2 separate regions of the Homo sapiens genome follow, and region 1 is linked to region 2. The links come from fine-mapping of genetic effects on plasma protein levels. A gene starts in region 2. The other region holds a variant in brackets. All regions are shown on one strand. Distances are from middle to middle.

The links. PIP is the posterior inclusion probability: the model's chance that the variant is causal. Protein levels are from antibody-based Olink assays in UK Biobank. Linkage for the fine-mapping came from a reference panel and not from the study's own genotypes, which makes the PIPs less certain.
Region 1: its variant is fine-mapped to the plasma level of the RNASE6 protein (UK Biobank, PIP above 0.99).

Annotation. Positions count from the first base shown.
Region 1 is chr14:20,711,735-20,722,729 of GRCh38, forward strand. It overlaps LOC124903282 (a long non-coding RNA gene), which reads right to left and starts at 3,989. Exons shown (of 2, transcript XR_007064061.1): 1 at 1,347-3,989. It also overlaps the pseudogene RANBP20P. The variant T/C (reference allele first, on the strand shown) is at 6,050.
Region 2 is chr14:20,776,297-20,787,291 of GRCh38, forward strand. It overlaps RNASE6 (ribonuclease A family member 6), which reads left to right and starts at 4,972. Exons shown (of 2, transcript NM_005615.5): 1 at 4,972-5,042; 2 at 5,399-6,171. The coding sequence starts at 5,404. The coding sequence ends at 5,856. All of the region lies in intron 1 of LOC107984671 (a long non-coding RNA gene), which reads right to left. RefSeq lists an enhancer at 6,047-6,116.

The sequences.
Region 1 (10,995 bases), 65 kb before region 2:
AAAACATTTCTGTTATCTAATAGGCTGGCTTGGTATTTGCCCATATGCCCCGCTATCATCCAGTAACCTCCCTTTTGTTACAATAAGGTTAACACTTGATAAGGCACAAATGCAGTAATGGGCTGTCCTAGGGTGAATTTTTCTGCTTCCTGTAAGATATCACACGTAGCTGCCACGGCCTGAAGACAAGGTGGCCATCCTCTGGTAATCTGCTCCAGTTGTTTGGGAAAGTAGGCTATGGGTTGTGGGGAATTCCCACGTAGTTGAATTAGTATTTCCTGTCCTGTGCCCTGGTTTTCATGGATATAGAGTCTAAATAGCTTTCAAGAATTGGGCAGTCCTAATGCTGGAGCTGACACTATTTTTTTTTTTTTTTTTGATGGTATCAAATGCCTGAAGGCATTCAGCCATCCAGTTTAGGGCTCCTGAATCTAATCCCTTTAGAGCCTTGTAGAGAGGTTTGACTATGAGTCCAAAATTAGGGATTCAGATTCAGCAGAAACCTGCCACACCTAAAACCCCCCACAGTGTCTTCCATTCCCAGGGGCCTTTATTGCTGCTATCACCTGTTTCTGGTTGGACATCAAGCTCTGCTTTCCTTGTTTTTAGTCAGAAGCCAAGATAGGTCACTTCTTGTTTACAAATCTGAGTTTTCTGAGGTGATATGTTACGTCCGTATTATATCAAATAATTTAAGATTAAGATAGTGTTAGATAGGCACCTCTCATAGTCTTGGCTTGCGATTAACAAGTCATCCAAGTATTTTAGCAGAACCCCATCATCTAGTTGAAAATCTCTGAAGCCCTTTGCCAATATTTTGCCAAAGATGGTGGGTGAGTTTTTAAAACCTTAAGAAAATACAGCCTAACAATATTGGAAGGTGTTTTTTGTTTCCAGGTCTTGCCACTCAAAGGTGAACAGCATCTGGTCCCTCTCTTCAATCAGGATGCAAAAAAAAAAAAAAAAAAAAAAGTATCTTTTAAGTCTAATACCGAAAACTACCCATACTGCCCTGGTTTATCAGTTAGTAAGGTGTAAAGGATGGGCATAGTTGGGTGAATGTCTTGAACAATGTCATTAATGGTTCCCAAATCTTGTACAAATCAATATTCATTTGAGTGTGGGTTTTTAACAGTCAGGATAGGGGCATTGTATGGAGATCTGTAAGGACATATTTGTCCATTTTTTAGAAACTTCTGTAATATAGGTTGTATCCCCTCTAAAGCCTCTCTTTTTAGAGGGCACTGTGTTTGGGGAATACCTTAGCCCCTTCATTTATTTCTGTGCACACAGGCTGTGTATTTTCAGCACTACCTGTGGTCCCATCTGCCCTCATGACTACTTACTTGCTCACAGATTGCTGGCAGGAGGCATTCTTTTTCTTCCTCGGGGTGTGTGAGCAGCATCTGCAGCTGCAAAGCTTGCTCTGGCAGGACCTGCAGATGAAGTTGTTGTTTTTCTGGAGAAAAACGTCACATGGCAATTTAGTTTACAAAGCAAATCTCACTCCAGCAAAGGAATTTGGTATTCCAGCATATAGAGGAAACTGTGTCTCAGCTCCAGATCTCTGTGTCCGGCAGTCTCCAGACTCTCCAGGGTCTGGAGAAAGGCTGTTTGCTGCATCTTGCCAGCGACAACCATCACAGGCACTGTTTTCCTAGTACTTTCAGTTTCTTTAGTGTTTCTACCTGAATAAGTCACACCAGTATTGATTAAAAAGTCAATCAATTTGTTCCCCATTGTCAATCGTACCTGAGGTTCCTGTGGGGAAATTACAACCTGCTCCAAAAGATTTGGGCCTCCTTCACTATCTGAGCTACAGTCCTGCTTTACCATCAGCCAGTATGTTTCTTCTCTGTCACTGTGTCTCCCTTCTTCTGGTTTCCCTGTCTTTTCTTTAATTTGGGGCACTCAGATTTCCAATGACCTTCCTCCTTGCAGGGGGCAGACTGATCATTACCTAGAGTTTTGTTCTGGCCACCTCCCTGTGCCTGGTTTTTCCTTTTCGGATATACATTCTTTCCACTAATTCCAAGTATATCATGGCTTGCTTTAGCTTTTTGGCCTTCCTGGCATTATATACTCTGAAGGCAATGTCCAGCAGTTGGGAAAGGTTTATTCCAAATACCCCCTCCAGTTTCTGCAGTTTTCGTTTAATATTGGATGAAAGTCACGTTTACCATTCTCATATTCTCAGGAGCTTCTGGATCATAGTCCATACACTTGTGGTAAACCTGGTAAATGCACTCCAGAAATTCACAGGGGTTCTCATCTGCCTTTGGGAGAACTGCCCTGGCTTTATTTAAGCTCTTTTACATTCTTCTCTTTAACCCTGCCAACACATGCTTTTTATAATGACTGGACAGGGCCATTCCTCCATTGTTGGGGTCCCAAGTAAAATCTGCAAGTGGAGCAGCCATTTCTATTCCTTCCCCATCCTGGGGAGAGGAGCTGACACCTTGGCCTCTCCGGGTCCTGGGCTACATTTGGTAATCCTGGGAGGGCTGGTGCCCCCAGTACCACATGGGAGGGGAAATTTAAGATATTTATGAGGCCCATATCATCAATATCCTCTTCCTTTTGGGTCTTACTATCTGGAAAGAGAAATCTCTTTTTCCCTTTTCTCTACGTCATTCACATAGACCCCTCATGTGCTGAGTCTTTGTTATGTAATAAATGCTTAAACACATGGAATCTCATTTCATTTCCCAGATCTTAGGCAAAATAACGCCAACTGTAATAAGGTGTACTAATGTAAATCACTGTTCAGTAGCCACCATTTTTCAGATTCCAACACATACATAGGCCAAACAGTGTTACAATGAAAAAAAATCATTATCTTTTTTGTTATGAGTTCATAGCTATAAGCTTTCCAATAAGCCAATATACAGCCCAATGGCCACTTAGATGGAATGGAAGTCAAGTTGCCCATTCTCAGGGGAGAGATCAAAAGAACACAAACACACAGATCAACACAGAGTACTCCTGAACCAATTCCTGTAGAAGGAGACTGGGAAGTTAATAAATCTTAGGCTAACTGATACTGCAAAAGACCTGTGTCAGGTCCAAATGGCATAAAGCCCAAATGGCAGAGACAGAGGATTTCTAGCATGCAAACTGGTTTGATTTACCCAGTCTTGAATCCTGTCAACTTCCTCAACTATCATTTTCCTTATACTAATAAAGCATTGCAGGCAGCTGATGCCACAGAGGGGGAAGGAGGGAAAAGATGTTCTTGGCAGCTGCTGGGACAACCCTAGAATCCCAGCTGGGAGGTCAGCTAGCCACGAGCAGCTAATCCTCATGAGAAGTTGTTGCTCTGCCTGGTAGCATGAATGAGTAAGCCCTGGCATGATGCCACAGCCAATTGCTCCATCCATCGGAAACCAGGCACGCTAGACCAGTAGAGACATATAGCCCCATGCTGGGTGATAAAAAATGTAACCAAACTGTTGGAAGTAAGTGCTCGGTGCCACAGAGTGAAAATAGCACTCAGGCAAAAATTTTCTCAGCAAAGCAATTTACTTCTATAGAAGGGTGCATCTCTCAGATGGAGCAATGGTGAGAGCACACCAGACAAGGGAGGAGAAGGGCGTCTTATTCCTAATGCAGCTAGTCCCTACTGCTGTGTCTTTCCCCTGTTGGCTAGGGTTGGACCACACAGTCTAAGCTAATTCCAGTTGGAAATTTTAAAGAGAGTGAGTGTATGAGCTGGAGTGGTGGGGTGAGTAGTTTCATCAGGGAAGGACAGTTACAGAACAGGAGAGTAAGGATGCCTAAGGACAGAACAGGTGATAGAGGCTAGGAGGGGGTTGTTTACTGAAACTAGAGGCAAGGAGGTGTAAAGAACAAGGAAGTTAAACTTCAAAATGGAGAACAAAGAACAGGGAAGCTGAACATACTGACGTATTTGTTCTTTGAAGAGGAACTCAGAACTCATTGTACTTAAATGATTTTTTTCTCCCTCTTGAATTTTTTTTTTTTTTTGAGATGGAGTCTTGCTCTGTCACCCAGGCTGGAGTGCAGTGGTGCAATCTAGGCTCACTGCAAGCTCCGCCTCCTGGGTTCACGCCATTCTCCTGCCTCAGCCTCCTGAGTAGCTGGGATTACAGGCACCCGCCACCACGCCCGGCTGATTTTTTTGTATTTTTTAGTAGAGACAGGGTTTCACCATGTTAGCCAGGATGGTCTCAATCTCCTGACCTCATGTTCTGCCTGCCTTGGCCTCCCAAAGTGCTGGGATTACAGGCATGAGCCACCACGCCCAGCCACCATCTTGAATTTTAAAGGAAGTTAACAGGCTAACTCTGAAGAGGAATTTACTGTATCCTACAATCTCCCCCCTTTCAATTTTCATAGGCCTTCCTCTTCAAACCTTTTTAACATGTCTTGGCTTTGCTGCTTGACTTGATCCTCTAAAAGAAGAAAGCTTTTCTGAATAAGGTGGAGGAAAGTTAAGGGAGGTTTTAGTAGGTGCTGTTTCTTTGCACTGCCCCACGGACGCATGGTATGACACAATACCCAACAAGAATGAGTACACCTATTACGGCTGCAAGAGAAGTAAGAATCGAGGCTATGATCTTTTCCATCTACTGAACCACCTTTCTAGCCATCCTGAGAAAGGGTTATTGACTCCAGAATCTTTAACTAATTCATTGGATAAAGCAGTAAGTCCTTGTAAGACCCTTGTTATGCTCCCAGTGGGGGCAGTGTTGCTTGGGATAAAGGTACAGCCCTGAGTTTTAATCATAACACCAACACTGCCTTTTTCAGCTAATATCACATCTAGGGCCATTCTGTTTTCCCAGGCCATCTGGCTAGTGGGCCCCAATTGTTCTGCTATCCCTTTGACAGCATCCCTGGTGTAATTAATAAACCACTGCTAATTATAATAGACGTAATTTATCCAATCTATGTTTTTATTAATTGTCACCCACAAAATCCTGCAGCTATTTAATCTTGACTCAAATCCTGCAGCTATTTAATCTTGATCTTTAAATTTATCTGGTACTCCTCATGGGACTCCAATTGCATCTAAATAAATGTGGGAGTTGAAAGACCCATAAGGAGCTTCCCTTGTTTTATGATGTTGTATTTTTCCTCTCTCTGGTTGATGAAATGCTAGGGTGGAAGGGATAGCCAATTAAACTAGAGCACAAGTGCTGCTCCAGTTACTTGGCAGAGAGTCCAGTAAAGGTCCACCACAATACCACCATACATATGCTTGGGGATGAACAAGGGCTGACTGATTGGTAAGCTCTTGGAAAGTCTTAAGCTCACTGCATCTTTTTAGGTCTCCAAGGAATGCTAAGTTTCCTCCCTGTAGTGAGAGATATGAAGTGAACTTAGCGTCAGGGGACAGAAGCTGAGTGGACCTTGGGGGCTGACCTGCAGGGTATTGAACCTCAGGATATAGCAGAGAGAGCTTGACACGACTTTTTACCCCAGGCTGTGTAATCCTGGAAAAAAGTAACCATACAGCCCATGCCTAGTAGACTAAAGGACTATCCTAATGGAAAGGGGACAATCTGGGCTTCTGGTCTGCCGTGCGCACAAGCATAACAAATGCTTTTGTTTAAAGTGTGGATGGAATGTTTGATCCACTCCAACCAGGCATTAGCATCTTGATATTCTGTCTCAATTGCCAAAGTTTGTTTTAGGTCTTTAACTTCTATAATAACTACCTTGGTCTTGTCATTAGATGGAGGAGAACAACAGTTTTGTTGTGAGAGCTTCTGGAAGAAGGCTTAAGGGAAGGTGTAGGCGGCAGAGGATCAATGAATTGTGTTTCAAAGGATCTGATAGGGTCTGTTCCTGAAACCTCAGCCCCCACACCATAAAACCGGCTTAAAGAAGGGAACCGGCTTAGAGAAGGGGAAGAGCTTTGAGGGTTTGAGATAATAACCTGTATTGGATTGCACGGTTCAGCTGACAGCTAGGTGAAGCTGTTCCTTTAGTAAAGTGAATATATGACTTTAGGAAATTACAACCACTGGTTGGGGCAGCTCATCCTTGCTCTTTAGTGGTCCACAGAATGTTGGACCAACTG[T/C]GGCATAAAAGCTCTGTCTTGCAGGAGCAAGACTCCCAGCTGATACTGGGGTCTTTATTGAAATCTCTCCAGACTAAATGATCCCCATTCACTAATGTCCAGTCTGAGGAGAGCCGGGAAGGACAGAGGTACTTTTCTGAATTGGAGAGCTGTCTTTAACTTGACAAGTCTCCACAAGGTATAACAAGGCAAGCATCAAATGTAATAGTTTGAGGTGAAATTGACTTTGTTACATTAATAATGAGGTGGTCAGCAATAGAATGAGGAAAGAAGAAGGAGTAATAAGAGAGTTAAATTTTTCTTAGCTTGGCTCACGCCTGTAATCCCAGCACTTTGGGAGGTCGAGACAGGTGGATCGTTTGAGGTCAGGAGTTCAAGACCAGCCTGGCCAACATGGTGAAACCCCATCTCTACTAAAAGTACAAAAATTATACAGGCGTAGTGGTACACGCCTGTAATCCCAGCTACTCGGAAGGCTGAGGCGGGAGAATTGCTCGAACCCGGGAGGTGGAGGTTGCAGTGAGTGAAGATCGCACCACTGCACTCCAGCCTGGGCAACAGAGCAAGACTCTGTCTCAAAAAAAAAAAAAATTTCTTAGCTTTAGTTTGGTAGGGTTTTCCCCTGGGACTATGGCCCACGACTCTGGAGGGGGCGGCACTTTCTTGACTTGGGTGTGATAGGTCCATCCTTTTTCTGCTGTCTGGACTGCGCTTTCAGTAGTTAGGAGCACTAGATAAGGTCCTTCCCAGGCCAGTTCCAGCTTTTCCTCCTTCTAGTTTTTGATGAGGACTTGATCCCCGGGCTGATTTCGATGTACTGGGAACTCCAGGGATGGTGCCTGTGCTAAAAGACCTTTAGTTCTAAGGGAAGAGAAAGTGGAAGATAAACCAAGTATATAATGTCTGAGAAACTGATCTTTTGTTTCGAAGGTGGAAATGTCAGCAGTGGAGTGTAAATAGGGCAACCCATATAGCATCTCATATGGGGATAGGCCAACATCTTTTTGAGGGGTGGTTCAGATTCCTAGCAAGGCAATGGGAAGGCATTTAGTCCATGGCAACTGAGTCTTTAAGACTAATTTGGTTAAGTGACTCTTCACGGTTTGATTTATTCTTTCTACTCTTCCCGATGAAGGTGGGTGCCAAGGAGTATGGTATTCCCACGTTATGTCTAGTGCTTGGGCTAATTTCTTAATGATATGTGCAGTGAAATGAGTTCCATTATTTGAATTAATATTTTCAATTTATTTGCCCAGATCCATTGGAGGAACCACTATCTATGACCGCTATAGTCTTATGAAATGTATTTCTGAAGTAATAAGACTTGAAAGCCAAAATTACTCCTTGATCCATGGGCTGCAGAACTGCAGAACGGATGTTGTGTGAGCAGGCATGGAAACTATGGAAATTAATATCTTTGAACATCTCCATCAGAGGCCTTAGGTAACCAAGTGCATTGCCAATCAGCAGTAGTATTTTGAAAGGAATCTTTTTTTTCTGAGCAGGTCTCAATAATGAGCTTAAAATATTCAGTAAACCATGATGTAAACAGATGTGCTGTCAATCAGGCTTTGTTGTTCCATTTATAGAGACAGGCAAAGTAGATTCAGCATAATTCCTAAGGGCCCTAGGATTTTCAAATGATACATGAGCACTGGCTTCAACCTGAAGTCTCCAGTGGCAGGTGCCCCCTGACAAGAGAGTTGGCCTGCCCTCTGAAGCTCTGAAACCAGGCACTGACTCCTCCTCTCTAGCTATGGGAGTCCCAGATGGCACCTTCTTCCACTATAAAGCTGTCTCATCTACACTGAAAATCTGTTGTTTAGTGTGGCCACCTTCATCAATGATCTTATCTAGAGCTTCTGGAGAACTTGCTGCAGCTTCTCCTCAGGACTTGCTGCTTCATCCTGCACTTTTATGTTATGGAGATGGCTTCTTTCCTTAAACCTCACGAACCAACCTGTGTTGGCTTACAACTTTTCTTCTGTAGCTTCCTCACCTCTCTCAGCTTTCAGAGAATTGAAGGGCCTGATCTGGTTTTGACTTTGGCATAAGAGAATGTTGTGGCTGGTTTGGTCTATCCGAACCACTGAAATTTTCCCCGTGTCAACAACAATAAGGCTGTTCTGCTTTCTTATCACTTGTGTGTTCACTAGAGCAGAACTTTTAATCTCCTTCAAGAACTTTTCCTTTGCATTCGCAACTTGACTAACTGGCTCAACAGCATTTGGCCTATCCTAGCTTTTGACACGCCTTCCTCACTAAGCTTAATCATTTCTAGATTTTTAAAGTAAGAGACATGTGACTCTTCCTTTCACTTGAACACATAGAGGTCATTGTAGGGTTACTAAATGGCTCAGGGAATAGGGAGTCCTAAAGACAGGAAGGTGGGGAAGCCGCCAATCAGTGGAGCAGTCAGAACACACACATTTATCAATCAAGTTTGCCATCTTCAGTTTGTGGCACCCCAAAATAATTACAATAGTAACATCAAAGATCACTAACCACAAATTACTGTCAGATATAGTCATAGAAGAAGTTTGAAATATTCTAATAATTACCAAAATGTGACACATGGAAGCACTAAATGCTGTTGAAAAAATGGCGCTGACAGATTTGCTCAATGCAGGGTTGCCATAAGCCTTCAACTTGTAAAAAACACAGTATCTACGAAGTGCTATAAAGGGAAACACAACAAAACGAGGTGTGCCTGCACAACCAATGCCCAACTGTGTGTACCGCCTGAAGGAAAATGTTTCAAAGGTATCACAACTTTTTAGTCTGGAAATCTGAACAATATTTTGGTTTTTCACAGTGAGCATGTGGAACTTATATAACCAAAAAAGTAAAGTTGTATTTGAATGCATGTGGGCTACAAGTAAAAAGGAAGATGAAATAACAGTTTTATAAAGCGGAAAGATTTATGGGTCTAACTCTGTGTCATATTTAGATTTTCTAATAAATGGGTATAGGAACAGAAGGAGAGACAGAGTTAGATAAAAGGTGTAGACGGTAGGCTTTGCTGCTTCGAGAACTTGGTGCTGATTAGAGGTGTGATTGCATTCATGGTAATAGGGATGAGTGTCACGAACTGCTGTGTGTTCTGCTGGTGAGCTTCACTGCAATACTGCACTAACCAGTGAGTGTAAGCCTGCAGCACAGCCAGGGACTGAGCACGTACATCAATGAGGTCAGGTTTCAATACTGATGGCACATCAGTTTCAATGTTGCACAATTTTTTTTTTTCTTTTTTGAGACGGAGTCTTGCTCTCTTGCCCAGGCTGGAGTGCAGTGGCACGTTCTCAGCTCACTGCAACCTCTCCCTCCCTGGTTGAAGTGATTCTCCTGCCTCAGCCTCCCGAATAGCTGGGACTACAGGCACGTGCCACCGTGCCCACCTAATTTTTTGTGTTTTTAGTAGAGACAGGGTTTCACCATGTTATCCAGGATGGTCTCAGTCTCCTGACCTTGTGATCCACACACCTCGGCCTCCCAAAGTGCTGGGATTACAGGCGTGAGCCACCGCACCTGGCTCAATGTTGTACAACTTTATCTGAGATCCATACAGAGTGACTTTGACCAAACTCTCCACAACTGTGAGGGCATCATTGAACCATGCAGCAAACACATCCCCAATAAAGTACCCGGCCAGGTGGCCCATGGCCTGCAGCAGGGAGCTCAAGTCTCTCAGGGAGCAGTGCAGCCACCAGCAGTCGTTCTCTGCCATGATGTTCAACCTGTGTCCTGACCCTGATGTAACTATAACTTGCTGTAATCCCAAATAAACTTCTAAATTGCCCTGAAGAACTGGGAACAGTGTGGACAACGTGTGCGTGGGCAGGAGCTCCATCACTTTGACCGCCACCTCCAAGCTCTGCCGTAAGTACCGCTGTCACTCCATCTGCTGATCGTCATCCAGAGTCTCGTCATCCAACTCCTCCAGCTGGCCTGGTTGTATCTGAACTGGATTTGATTCAACACCTCTGTGGGGAGGAGCACCAGGGCATCTTCGTACCTGTTGAGAACTGCTTCCTTGTCTTCAAGATGACTTTTAATTTTATTTGTCAGATAGTCCAAAAAGAGTGTCCAGTATCCAAACAAGAGAATTAACCTTCATGAGTAGGCTGATGAAATGTGTACTTGAACAAAAGTGTCAAAAACTCCACCACAGAGAACTGGGAGTAAGACTCGATTCTTCTTAGGTGAACACTCACAAAGAGCCAAAGAAAGTCAGTAAACTTCTCAATAAAGCTCTCATCGAGCTCTTCTAGCCTGCTCTTCACTGTGTGGGCATTGTTATCCTTGGTGATCTTCTGCAGGAGGTAGAAAGTCTGCTGGAACATAAGCAGTAAATACTCCTCGAACTCCATCGGCACACAGCTCTTGGAAATGAGTTCACTGATGCAGGGCATGGCCAGGACCCCCGGCCGGCTCCGCTCCTGAACCGAGACACAGTTCTGGCTGCTGCCGTTAACTGACGCCATCTTTCTGGCACGGATGTCACAGCCAAATCACGCAAAGTGGAAGGTGGTGGTAAGGAGGGATGGGGTGATGCCGGCAGACAGAGGAATACAACTGAAGAGATGGGCTAGGCACTCCAAGGCAAGGGAACAGATATACTCACTCACCACATCAAGGATGGGAATTGGCTGATTCAACAGTTTGGCTGAACTAGGACTCTGCCACAGGTTACTCAGTAAGTCACCACTTTCTCCTGTCGGGGAGGGTGGTGGAGTGGCAGCAGTAACACTGTGTTTGTCCCAGACAGTCCCCAAGATAGCGGTCAGCAGCCCAAGCACTGTCTGCACCTGGTCCAGTGGCAGCTTCTGCAACTCCTCCTTCCAAGCCACACTGAGGTCCTCGTGGGGACAAGCCAGCTCCTCTGAAGTTGTCTTCAACATGATCGGCCCAAGGGGGGTTGTCACAGGGGATTGGTTCAACTGCAA
Region 2 (10,995 bases):
CTAAAGACCCCTACCAAGGAACTGGCTTGGCACATGAATGCTGAGTTTCTTCATGTCCCTGTCCCATGACTTCACCTCTCACTTCTTGATGAATCAGAAATGCTCACATTTTGGCCCTTGTCCAGACTCCTTAAAAACCCTATCCCCAAACCCAAAACCAAATTGTAGGTTACCTCCCATCTACTCATTTGGCTGCCCTATGAAAATTAAACTCTCTCTTTTTCAATCCCTGTTTTCTTAATATATCCATTTGTTGTGCATCAAGTAACAAATCTGTTATGATGATAGTGGCATGAAAATTATTTTAAACTGAAAATGTCTGAACAGACAGAAGCTGCAGAAAGAAACACTATTTAAACTTAACCAGAGCCTCTTGAAAATTCAGCTGCCATTGATCCCCTTCAAAGGTATTTTCCTGTTTGAAACGAGACAGCCCCTTAGCACTGGGATGTGTAAATTAGCTTCCATAAACCCCCATACAGGGAAACTTCCAGCCAGGAAGAAATCAATCTACCCATTTCTATTAGCATCAGAAAGCTTACTAGAACCTTCCATATTTTCCTTTTGAAGCCCCAACAAAAATCTTTTATTTTTTATTTTATTTTATTTTTGAGACAGACTTTCACTCTTGTTGCCCAGGCTGGAGTGCAGTGGCGCAACCTTGTCTCACTGCAACCTCCGCCTGCCAGGTTCAAGAGATTCTCCTGCCTCGGCCTCCCGAGTAGCTGGGATTACAGGTGCCCACCACCATGCCTGACTAAATTTTGTATTTTTAGTAGAGACGGGGTTTTACCATGTTGGCCAGGATGGTCTCAAACTCCTGACCTCAGGTGATCTGCCCACATTGGCCTCCCAAAGTGCTGGGATTACAGGTGTGAGCCACCATGCCCGGCCAAATCTTTTTTTAAAAAATAGAGATGGGGGTCTTGCTATGCTGTTGGTTTCAAACTCCATGCCTCAAGTGATCCTCCTGCCTCAGTCTCCCAGAATGTTAGGATTACAGGCATGAGCCACTGCACTTGGCCAAAAACACTTTTTTTAAAGTTGATATATAACTTTACCTCTGGCTATTCAGCAAGTTACGCATTATGTAATACTCCTGTGTGCATGTGTAAATAAACTTTGAATTTTCTCCTATTAATCTTTTTCTAATTCACAAGCTCCTTTACCACCACCTTTAAAACCTAAAATGATAGAGGAAAAGTTTTTCTCCAAACAATGTGATGCTGAACATCTTTTCATTGCTCATCTGCCATCTGTATATCTTGTTTGGTGAAGTGTTGGGGTACAGAGAATCATACTACAAACTATGATGCATGGCATTCTGAGCACTTTTGAATTAAAGAAATTAAATTAAAGAATTAAATTTAACTAGAATTAAAGAATTAAAGAAACCAAAACTTCTTAGAAGCTGCCTCAGGACCAAAGATGTTCTAATCTTCTCTCATTCCTCCCCCAGCTCTCAAATGCAGAGAGGAGCTCTCTCTGGAAGTTCCCTTGTCTGGATAAGGAAAACTTCTTCCAAGAAATGCAATTGTCTTAAGACCCCCCTTTCTAAAAATCTCATCAGATAACCAGGAAATATTAGCCACCTGAAAAAAAGAAGAGACTAGAAGTCTCTTCACACCACACTCAGATAGACCTTTCATCTATTCTTCCAAGAGCAGCTCCAAAAGAGTACCTAAGAGACTTTATCTGTATAATAAGGCAACCTTTGTTCATAGTGCAGTTCCACCCTTCACCTTCCCATAACTCGTCACCCTTCCATTCAGCTTCCAAAGAGACTCATTTACAAACTATTGTCTGCTATTTGGGGCCAGTTCCCTAAAAAATATTTAAAACTCCTCAAAATTGCCTACATTTTCCCCATGTTCCTCTCCCCTATGAAGAGAATACATGAATTTCAACTATTTAGTCTTTCTTTGAGTCTCATAATTTGTATGGTTCCCATGATTATGCACAGTAATAAATTTGTATGCCTTTTTCTCCTGTTAATCTGTCTATTGTCAGTTCATTTCAGAAGTTTTGAACCTTCAGAGGGAGAGGAAAAATTGTCTTTGCCCCATACCATTCAGATGTTTTGCCCATTTTTCAACTAGGTTGTTGGTTTTCTTATGGTTGAGGTTTTTTGAGTTCTTTGTATATTTTGGATAATGTTCTTTTATCAGATATATCTTTTGCAAATATCTTCTCTCAGTCTCTGGCTTATCTTTTTATTCTCTTAATAGTATCTGTTGCAGAGCAGAAGTTTTCAATTTTAATGAAGTTCCACTTATCAATATTTTTCTTTCATGGATTGTGCTTTTGGTATTGTATCTAAAAAATCATTGCCAAACTCAAGGCTGCCTAGATTTTCTTCTATGTTATTTTCTAGAATTTTTGTAGTTTTGTATTTTGCATTAGGTCTATGGTCCATTTTGAATTAACATTTGTGCCAGGCGCGGTGGCTCACGCCTGTAATCCCAGCACTTTGGGAGGCCGAGGTGGGCGGATCACCTGAGGTCAGGAGTTCGAGGCCAGCCTCACCAACATGGTGAAACCCTGTCTCTACTAAAAATACAAAATTAGCTGGGTGTAGTGGTGCATGCCTGTAATCCCAACTACTCCGGAGGCTGAGGCAGGAGAATCACTTGAACCTGAGCGGCAGAGGTTGTGGTGAGCTAAGATCATGCCATTGCACTCCAGCCTGGGCAACAAAAGCGAAACTCCATCTCAAAAAAAAATTGTGAAAGATATAAAGTACAGGTCTATGAAAATGTATGAAGTCTAACCTATGAAAAGATTTATTTTTTGCATGTGTACATTCAGTTCTACTACCATTTGTTGAAAAGACTAACTTTTCTCAATTGAAAATTGATCCTTTGTCACAGATTAGTTCACTGTATTTGTGTGGGTCTACCTCTGGGCTTTCTACTTGGTTCCATTGACCTATTTGTCTATTTTTCACCAATAACACACTGTCTTAATTGCTGTAGCTTTATAGTAAGTTTTGAAGTTGGGTCACGTCAGTTTTCTGACTTTGTTCTTCTTTTTCTGCATTGTGTTGACTATTCTGAATCTTTTTTTTTTTTGAGACAGAGTCTCGCTCTGTCACCCAGGCTGGAGTGCAGTGGTGCGATCTCGGCTCACTGCAAGCTCCACCTCCCGGGTTCAAGCGATTCTCGTGCCTCAGCCTCCCAAGTAGCTGGTACTATAGGCGCCCGCCACCAGGCCTGGCTAATTTTTTGTATTTTTAGTAGAAACGGGGTTTCACTGTGTTAGCCAGGATGGTCTTGATCTCTTGACCTCGTGATCAGCCTGCCTCGGCCTCCCAAAGTGCTGGGATTACAGGCGTGAGCCACCGTGTCCAACCTGAATCTTTTACTTTTATATAAACTTCAGAGTCAGTTTGTCACTATCCACAAAATAATGTGCTGGGATATTGATTGAGATTGTGCTGAATCTATAGATCAAGTTGAGAGGAAATGACATCTTAACATATTGAGTATTCCTACTCATGTACATGGAATATCTGTGCTTCCTCAATTTCTTTCATTAGAGTTTTAAATTTTTCCTCATACCAATTTTTACATAATGTATTAGATTTACACCTAAGTATTTCACTTTCTTTGGTGCAATATAAATGGTATTGTGTTTTAAATATCAAATTGCAATTGTTCATTGCTGGTATATAAGAAAGCAACTGACTTTTGTATATTAACCTTGTATCCTGCAACCTTGCTATAAACAGACATTATGTTTATTCTGCAGACATTTGGAGCCATAAAAGCATGGGGCAAGAGTGTTGTACTATTATATCTTGTTCAAAAAAAGACTAATCTGGAAGTAATATGTAGAATGGATTGGAAGGAGAAAAAAACAAGGCAAGGAGTCCATGTGGGAGGCTTTTATGTGAGCCCTCCATAAGACAATGAGTTTCTGAATAAGGGTGTTGCAGTACCAGTGAAAAGGTAAGAACAGATTCAAGAGGCAAATATCCTAAATTCGGCCTTCTTCTTCAGGCTTACAGGTCTTTTCATACACAATTCTGTCTTTGGGAGGCGCTTAACACTCTCTTCACCTAACTTCTAATTATTCCTCAAAATTCAGTTCAGGTGTTGTGCCCTCCAACAATCCTTCCCCTCTACTATCTTCCCGTAGCCTCCTGCAGTGTCCTCCATCACACTGTAAGTGCTATTTATATTAATATAATCTACTTGTCTATATACTTACCTGCCTGTCTCTAATCTCTTTCATTAAATCATGAGCTCCTGGCAGATCACGAGGTCAGGAGATAGAGACCATCCTGGCTAACACAGTGAAACCCCGTCTCTACTAAAAATACAAAAAAATTAGCTGGGCGTGATGGCAGGCACCTGTAGTCCCAGCTACTCGGGAGGCTGAGGCAGGAGAATGGCATGAACCCAGGAGGTGGAGCTTGCAGTGAGCAAAGATCGCACCACTGCACTCCAGCCTGGGCGACAGAGCAAGACTCCGTCTCAAAAAAAAAAAAAAAAAAAACTCATGAGCTCCTGAATTTGTGTAGCCTAGTACCTGGCCCAATAAGTATATGCATAAATGAATAATGTATTCACTTCTGTTGTAGGAACTTACAACATTACCAAGTATGTGGCAGGCATTATATCATATTTATGTGACATATTTTCTCTTAAGAAACAGGAATCATAAAGCTTCAAAAAAAAACACTGAAGCCTCAGATGAGGCAGGAAGCACTCATTCCATATCAGGAAGTGATCAGTTCCTCAAAACTGTGAGTTTTCAGTCATGTTGTTTCTTTAAGTTGGTTTAGCCTTCCTGTATACATGTGATAATGATACTGTTTTAAAGAACAGGTGTGAAAGTCTAAGAGTTTAATCCAGACTCTGCACAAGAAGTTAATCTGCCAAACCCTAGGATTCTCCTTCTGAAAGCTCAGAATATTTCTTCCCCTTCCCTATACACACAGGGCTCGAAGGGTTAGAGAAGAAAGGCAGACAACAGCTTCTGAGCTTTGGACTAATCACAGCCTCTGTTCTCAGCAGGAGCCCCAACACTGAGACCAGGTAAGAAAGAAAGCCTCAGGGCTGGAGCGAGTAGAGCAGTAAAGACGGCTGGGAGGTAGTGGTCAGATAGAGGGTAAATATTTCAGGAGGGAAGAGGGAAGAAACTTTCTGATATGACAGCCATCAAATGCATGAGTACTTGTGAAAGAAAATGGGATATGCCAATCAAAGGAGAGGTCATATTTCTGTTTCCTGGGCTTCAGGTTCTTCATAGAATTGTGAGACTATGTGAGAAAGAAGATTTTAAAGGGAGCTGTAAAATCTTAAAAGGCAAAATAAAAATCTAAATAGTTATGATTAAAAATTTTGCTCTTATTGCTTCTCCTACTATAACTATCTTCTCTCTTTCTACACAGAAAAGATGGTGCTATGCTTTCCTCTTCTTTTACTGCTGCTGGTTCTATGGGGACCAGTGTGTCCACTTCATGCTTGGCCTAAGCGTCTCACCAAGGCTCACTGGTTTGAAATTCAGCATATACAGCCAAGTCCTCTCCAATGCAACAGGGCAATGAGTGGCATCAACAATTATACCCAGCACTGTAAGCATCAAAATACCTTTCTGCATGACTCTTTCCAGAATGTGGCTGCTGTCTGTGATTTGCTCAGCATTGTCTGCAAAAATCGTCGGCACAACTGCCACCAGAGCTCAAAGCCTGTCAACATGACTGACTGCAGACTCACTTCAGGAAAGTATCCCCAGTGCCGCTATAGTGCTGCTGCCCAGTACAAATTCTTCATTGTTGCCTGTGACCCCCCTCAGAAGAGCGATCCCCCCTACAAGTTGGTTCCTGTACACTTAGATAGTATTCTCTAAGGCATCCACTGCATTTCCTTTCATTTGACATAGCTTCTGTTACAATTGCATCCATGTTTTCTTTTCTTTTGTTGATTTTCTTGTTCCCGTAGAAGAAAGAAGAAAGGTGTTTGGAGAATTCGAGTGCCTAGGATGCCAGACCAGAGTTGAGACAAAAAGAAATAAGATTATTTTCTGCTTTGTAGTTCTGTACTTTTCGAGAGAAGGGAATAGGGAAGACAGCAAAGAAAGATTCAGATTTCTAACCCTGCAACTTTTGCCAAGCTTTATTGCCCTGTGTTCACAGCAATAAAACCACTTCCTGCTGCATTCTAATGAGTGTGTGTTTGAGATCCGCTTTCAAAGCATTGTTGACCGGTACTCAGAGGAACACTGTTTTGACTTTAAGTCCCTAGAAAACTTTTGAGGCCTCCCTGGGGCCCCACTTCCTTGCCCACAAGAAAGGACAGCGTTTGGGACTTTGGAGCATTTCTTCAAACTCTGCTCATGACTTTATATATTCCCCTGGAAACCATTGTCTATGCTTAATTGGAGGTAGTACTGATACCTCAAAGACAGTTGATGATAACTCACACATAGATTCTGTCACTGGCAACTGAAGGATCCTATGTCTTTTCTATTTGTTTCCGTTTTTAATCAGATAATGTTTTAAATATAAGGTGATAGTAGTAGTAATAGGGATAATAATCCATTGTAGTAACCTTAGGGTCAATCCTCCATTATTTATTGAAATGGATAAATAGAAAGCATAGATCAAGAAAAAAGCACTAGGCTTGTCGTGGTGGCTCACGCCTGTAATCCCAGCACTTTAGGAGGCTGAGGCAGGTGGATCGTCTGAGGTCAGGAGTTCAAGACCAGCCTGGCCAACATGGTGAAACGCTATCTCTACTAAAGATACAAAAAAAGTAGCTGGGCGTGGTGGCAGTGCCTGTAATCCCAGCTACTCGGGAGGCTGAGGCAGGAGAATCGCTTGAACCCAGGAGGTAGAAGTTGCAGTGAGCAAATATTGTGTCACTGCACTCCAGCCTGGGCAACAGAGTGAGACTCCCATCTCAAAAACAAAAAAAGAAAAAGAGAAAAGCACCAGGAGACCCAATGCAGTGGCTCACACCAGTAATCCCAGCACTTTGGGAGGCCGAGGCAGGCAGACGACTTGAGGCCAAGAGTTTGAGACCAGCCTGGCCAATGTGGTGAAACCCCATCTCTACTAAAAATACAAAAAATTAGCCAGACATGATGGCAGGAGCCTGTAATCCCAGCTAATCAGGAGCCTGAGGCAAGAGAATCGCTTGAACCTGGGAGGCAGAGGCTGTAGTGAGCCGAGATTGCACCACTGCACTCCAGCCTGGGTGACAGAGCGAAACTCCCGTCTCAAAAAAAAAAAAAAAAAAAGGAAAGAAAGAAAGAGAAAAAAGCACTAGGAAACTAAAAACATTCTAGTCCTATGTAAATACTGAAATACCACAGAAGTATTGGGGTTTTGGAACAGAACCTGAACTAAGCCATTTCACAGAAGGAACTTCAGTTTCCTTGTCAACCTCTAGAGTCATTGGGCTAGTGGGCCAGTGTAAATCCCAAGTGCTTTGTACAGTGATGAGTCTTCAAGTAGCAGCCAAAGACAATGAAGTTTTTTTGAAAAGGCTACATATTGTAGTGTCTTCATTACCTGTGCTGCAAATGATTCTTTCCAAGCCAGACTATTAGTTTAATAGATATGCTAACTCAGCTCACCTTCCTTTACGCTACACATTTATGTCATATCTTAGGAACAAAGAATGGAATATGAGGTTTCAGGAGCCTGGATTCCAGGGTGATGACTGATCAAGGGCCCTCCCATTGGGAAGAGATTAGCAGGTCAGGGCAATATGGCACCTAAGAAGGTGGGTACCTTATAGAGGGAATCCTACAGTGGGACTTGAGTGCTCTAACTCAAAGCAGCTTTCAGTTGTATTCAGCTTTAAGCCATGTTGCATTTACATTTTATTGTCTCAGAGTCTTCATGTAAAGTGTGGTGGAATGGCAGGGAGAATCTGTGCTCACGTTTGGTATGAACAAGTATACGAAAGTAGCAGCATCTGAAAGGAAAGGGGTTGAATGGATTTATATGAACATTACCTGGAAATTGCCAGAGATTCTTAAAGGTAATCTAGTAAAACCAAACAACTCAATTGCTCATGCTATTGTTATTTATATAGTAAAGGTATCTCATGGATTGAATACATCTGTGCTGCAAAAATTTTTCAACTGTCAGAAACATTAGGGAACATGAAATGTTACTTAAAATTAGTGAAATAAATTGTGAGGTCTAAAATACTGCAAATATTTTGTAACAAATGGTTAAAAACAAAAATATAATGAGTGCCATCTTTTGAAGAGATTTGCAGCAACAATATCTAATCTTCCCCACCCTCCCATGACAAACCTATCCCCAACAACAATTAGAGTCACTTTTTGTTGCTGATCAAGGAAAAGGCAACAATGAGGGTAACTTTTCAACAATCTATTATGCCCAAACTTTTAGAAGGTATTAGTTCTAAACAAGTGGAATAGACTGGGATGGAATCTCTCATAGATTTATTTTCTTTTCTACATGCAGTTATGTATTGCAGAAGTTCAATACATAATTGCTAAGAAGTTCACTTAGATATATCCCTAGAATATACAGAATGATCCCAAAGCAGGCAAAGCTTAGAAGTGAATTCAGCAGATGTTCTAGCAGCTCTCAACTCTGGCTTCATATTAGATTCACCTGGGAGCTTTTAGAAAAATACCAATGACGGGATCTACTAAATAAATTTTATGAACATTTAATGAACAATTAAATGAATATCTGGGGGTGAGACCTGGGCTCTAATGGATGTTTGTTAAAGATCCCCATGTAATTGTAATGGGCAGCAAATATTGGTAACAACTGTTGATGCAGGGGTAAGCAAACTACATCTGCAGACCTCTGGCCTGCCGCGCCTATTTTATACTGCCTGGAGTAGTGTGGTTTTTACTTTTATTTTTTTTTTTGAGATGGAGTTTGGCTCTGCCGCCCAGGCTGGAGTGCAATGGCTGGATCTCGGCTCACTGCAACCTCCACCTCCTGGATTCAAGCGATTCTCCTGCCTCAGCCGCCTGAGTAGCTGGGATTACCCGCCACCACGCCCAGCTAATTTGTTTGTTTGTTTGTTTGTTTGTTTGTTTGTTTTTTGAGACGGAGTCTCATTCTGTCGCCCAGGTTGGAGTGCAGTGGCGCGATCTCAGTTCACTGCAAGCTCTGCCTGCCGGGTTCACGCCATTCTCCTGCCTCAGCCTCCCGAGTATCTGGGACTACAGGCGCCCGCCACCACGCCCGGCTAATTTTCTGTATTTTTAGTAGAGACGGGGTTTCACCGTGGTCTTGATCTCCTGACTTCGTGATCCACCCGCCTCGGCCTCCCAAAGTGCTGGGATTACAGGCGTGAGCCACCGTGCTTGGCCGATTTTTACTTTTTTAGGGGGAGAAGAAAAAGGAGGAGGAAGAGGAGGGGGGGAAGAACAGGAAGAAGGAAGGAGTAGAGACGTGAGGGAGGGGAAGGAAGGGGAAGAAGAGGAAGAAGAAGGAGAGGAAGTGACACAGACCCTATGTGTTCCACAAAAGTGAAATATTTACTGTCTGGTCCTTTATAGAACAAAGTGTGTTGATTCCTGGTCTTCTAGACTATTCAATGGATCTTGTCCTTTGGCTGTGGCTGAGGCAGGTGGCTGGAATTCAGTAGGAAGGACGACACCTGGCAGGCTGAGAATTTTGAACTGGGGCCTCAGGAAAGTAATGATTTTTTTTTTTTTTTTTTTTTTTTTTTTTTTTTTTGAGACGGAGTCTCGCTCTGTCGCCCAGGCTGGAGTGCAGTGGCGCGATCTGGGCTCACTGCAAGCTCCGCCTCCCGGGTTCCCGCCATTCTCCTGCCTCAGCCTCCCCAGTAGCTGGGACTACAGGCGCCCGCCACCACGCCCGGCTAATTTTTTGTATTTTTAGTAGGGACCGGGTTTCACCATGTTGGCCAGGATCGTCTCGATCTCCTGACCTCGTGATCCGCCCGCCTCGACCTTCCAAAGTGCTGGGATTCCAGGAGTGAGCCACCGCGCCCGACCGTAATGAATTCTTAATATTCCTTTCTGTGCCCTGTTTCAGTCTTTTTCTGCAATGTACTCATTTCCTCTGCTTTTCTTTTTCACACAGTAAGTAGACAGTCATCCCTTTCCATCTCACTTTCTAATTTTCTCTGAAATATTATTTATTTTTGAAGGGATTCTGACTGATCCCATCCATAGATCAGACATGACCATCGGACAGAATCACATTGCAAAAAATAGCTTCCAGGAGCCTTTCTTGTGGACCATGCAGAAGAGAGGCTTAGAGAGAACTGCCCTTAAGGCTGGCCAAATGGGGTCTCTGGCCTCGCCTGTTCCTCAGGCACCCCGTTGCATCTTGGAATACCCTTCTCAACATTTTCTAAGTCTCTCATCAGTGGCTGCAGTCAGCCCAGGCTGGTAGTGCCTGGCCTGAGATCCGCATGGGATCCTATTCTCTTTCTCTCCTTTGGGGCTTTCTCCCACCCTCAACCCTTCCTTCCAGCACAGGAAGCCCTAAGGAGCTTCAGGACTCATGTCTGTAGTGTTGTCTTGGGGCCAGGACTGGTTCCAGGTGAGTTAGCCCTGGTTAGAGATGTCATAGTTCCCAGAGAAAAGGGGCTAGATAGACAATTCAATACTTTTTCTTTAACCACACAGTGTGGAAACAGAAATTGAATAACAATGTACTCTTGAGGAATAGAGGAAAGTTTATTTTAAGACAGGAGGATGTGGGACCAGTAAAAACATTAAACCACTTTTACAGCTGTACTTAGTGAGTTAGGTGGATATTTTAATTAATTTCGTCTGAAAAGAAATTATACAATCTAAAACTGATTTTATTGATTCTTTTGATACTGTGAATATTTCTTCAAGTCATCTTTTTAATTTGTAAAGTTATTTTTGAAAATGCCATTTTATCTAGACAGTGCTAATAAAAACAAGAAAGTGTTTGTCCACATTTGAGTCAAGATTGCAAAAAACCCCACAAAAACCCAGGTGTAGGGGTGGCAATAGCAGAGCCAAAGAGCTTCGCAAGGAGGA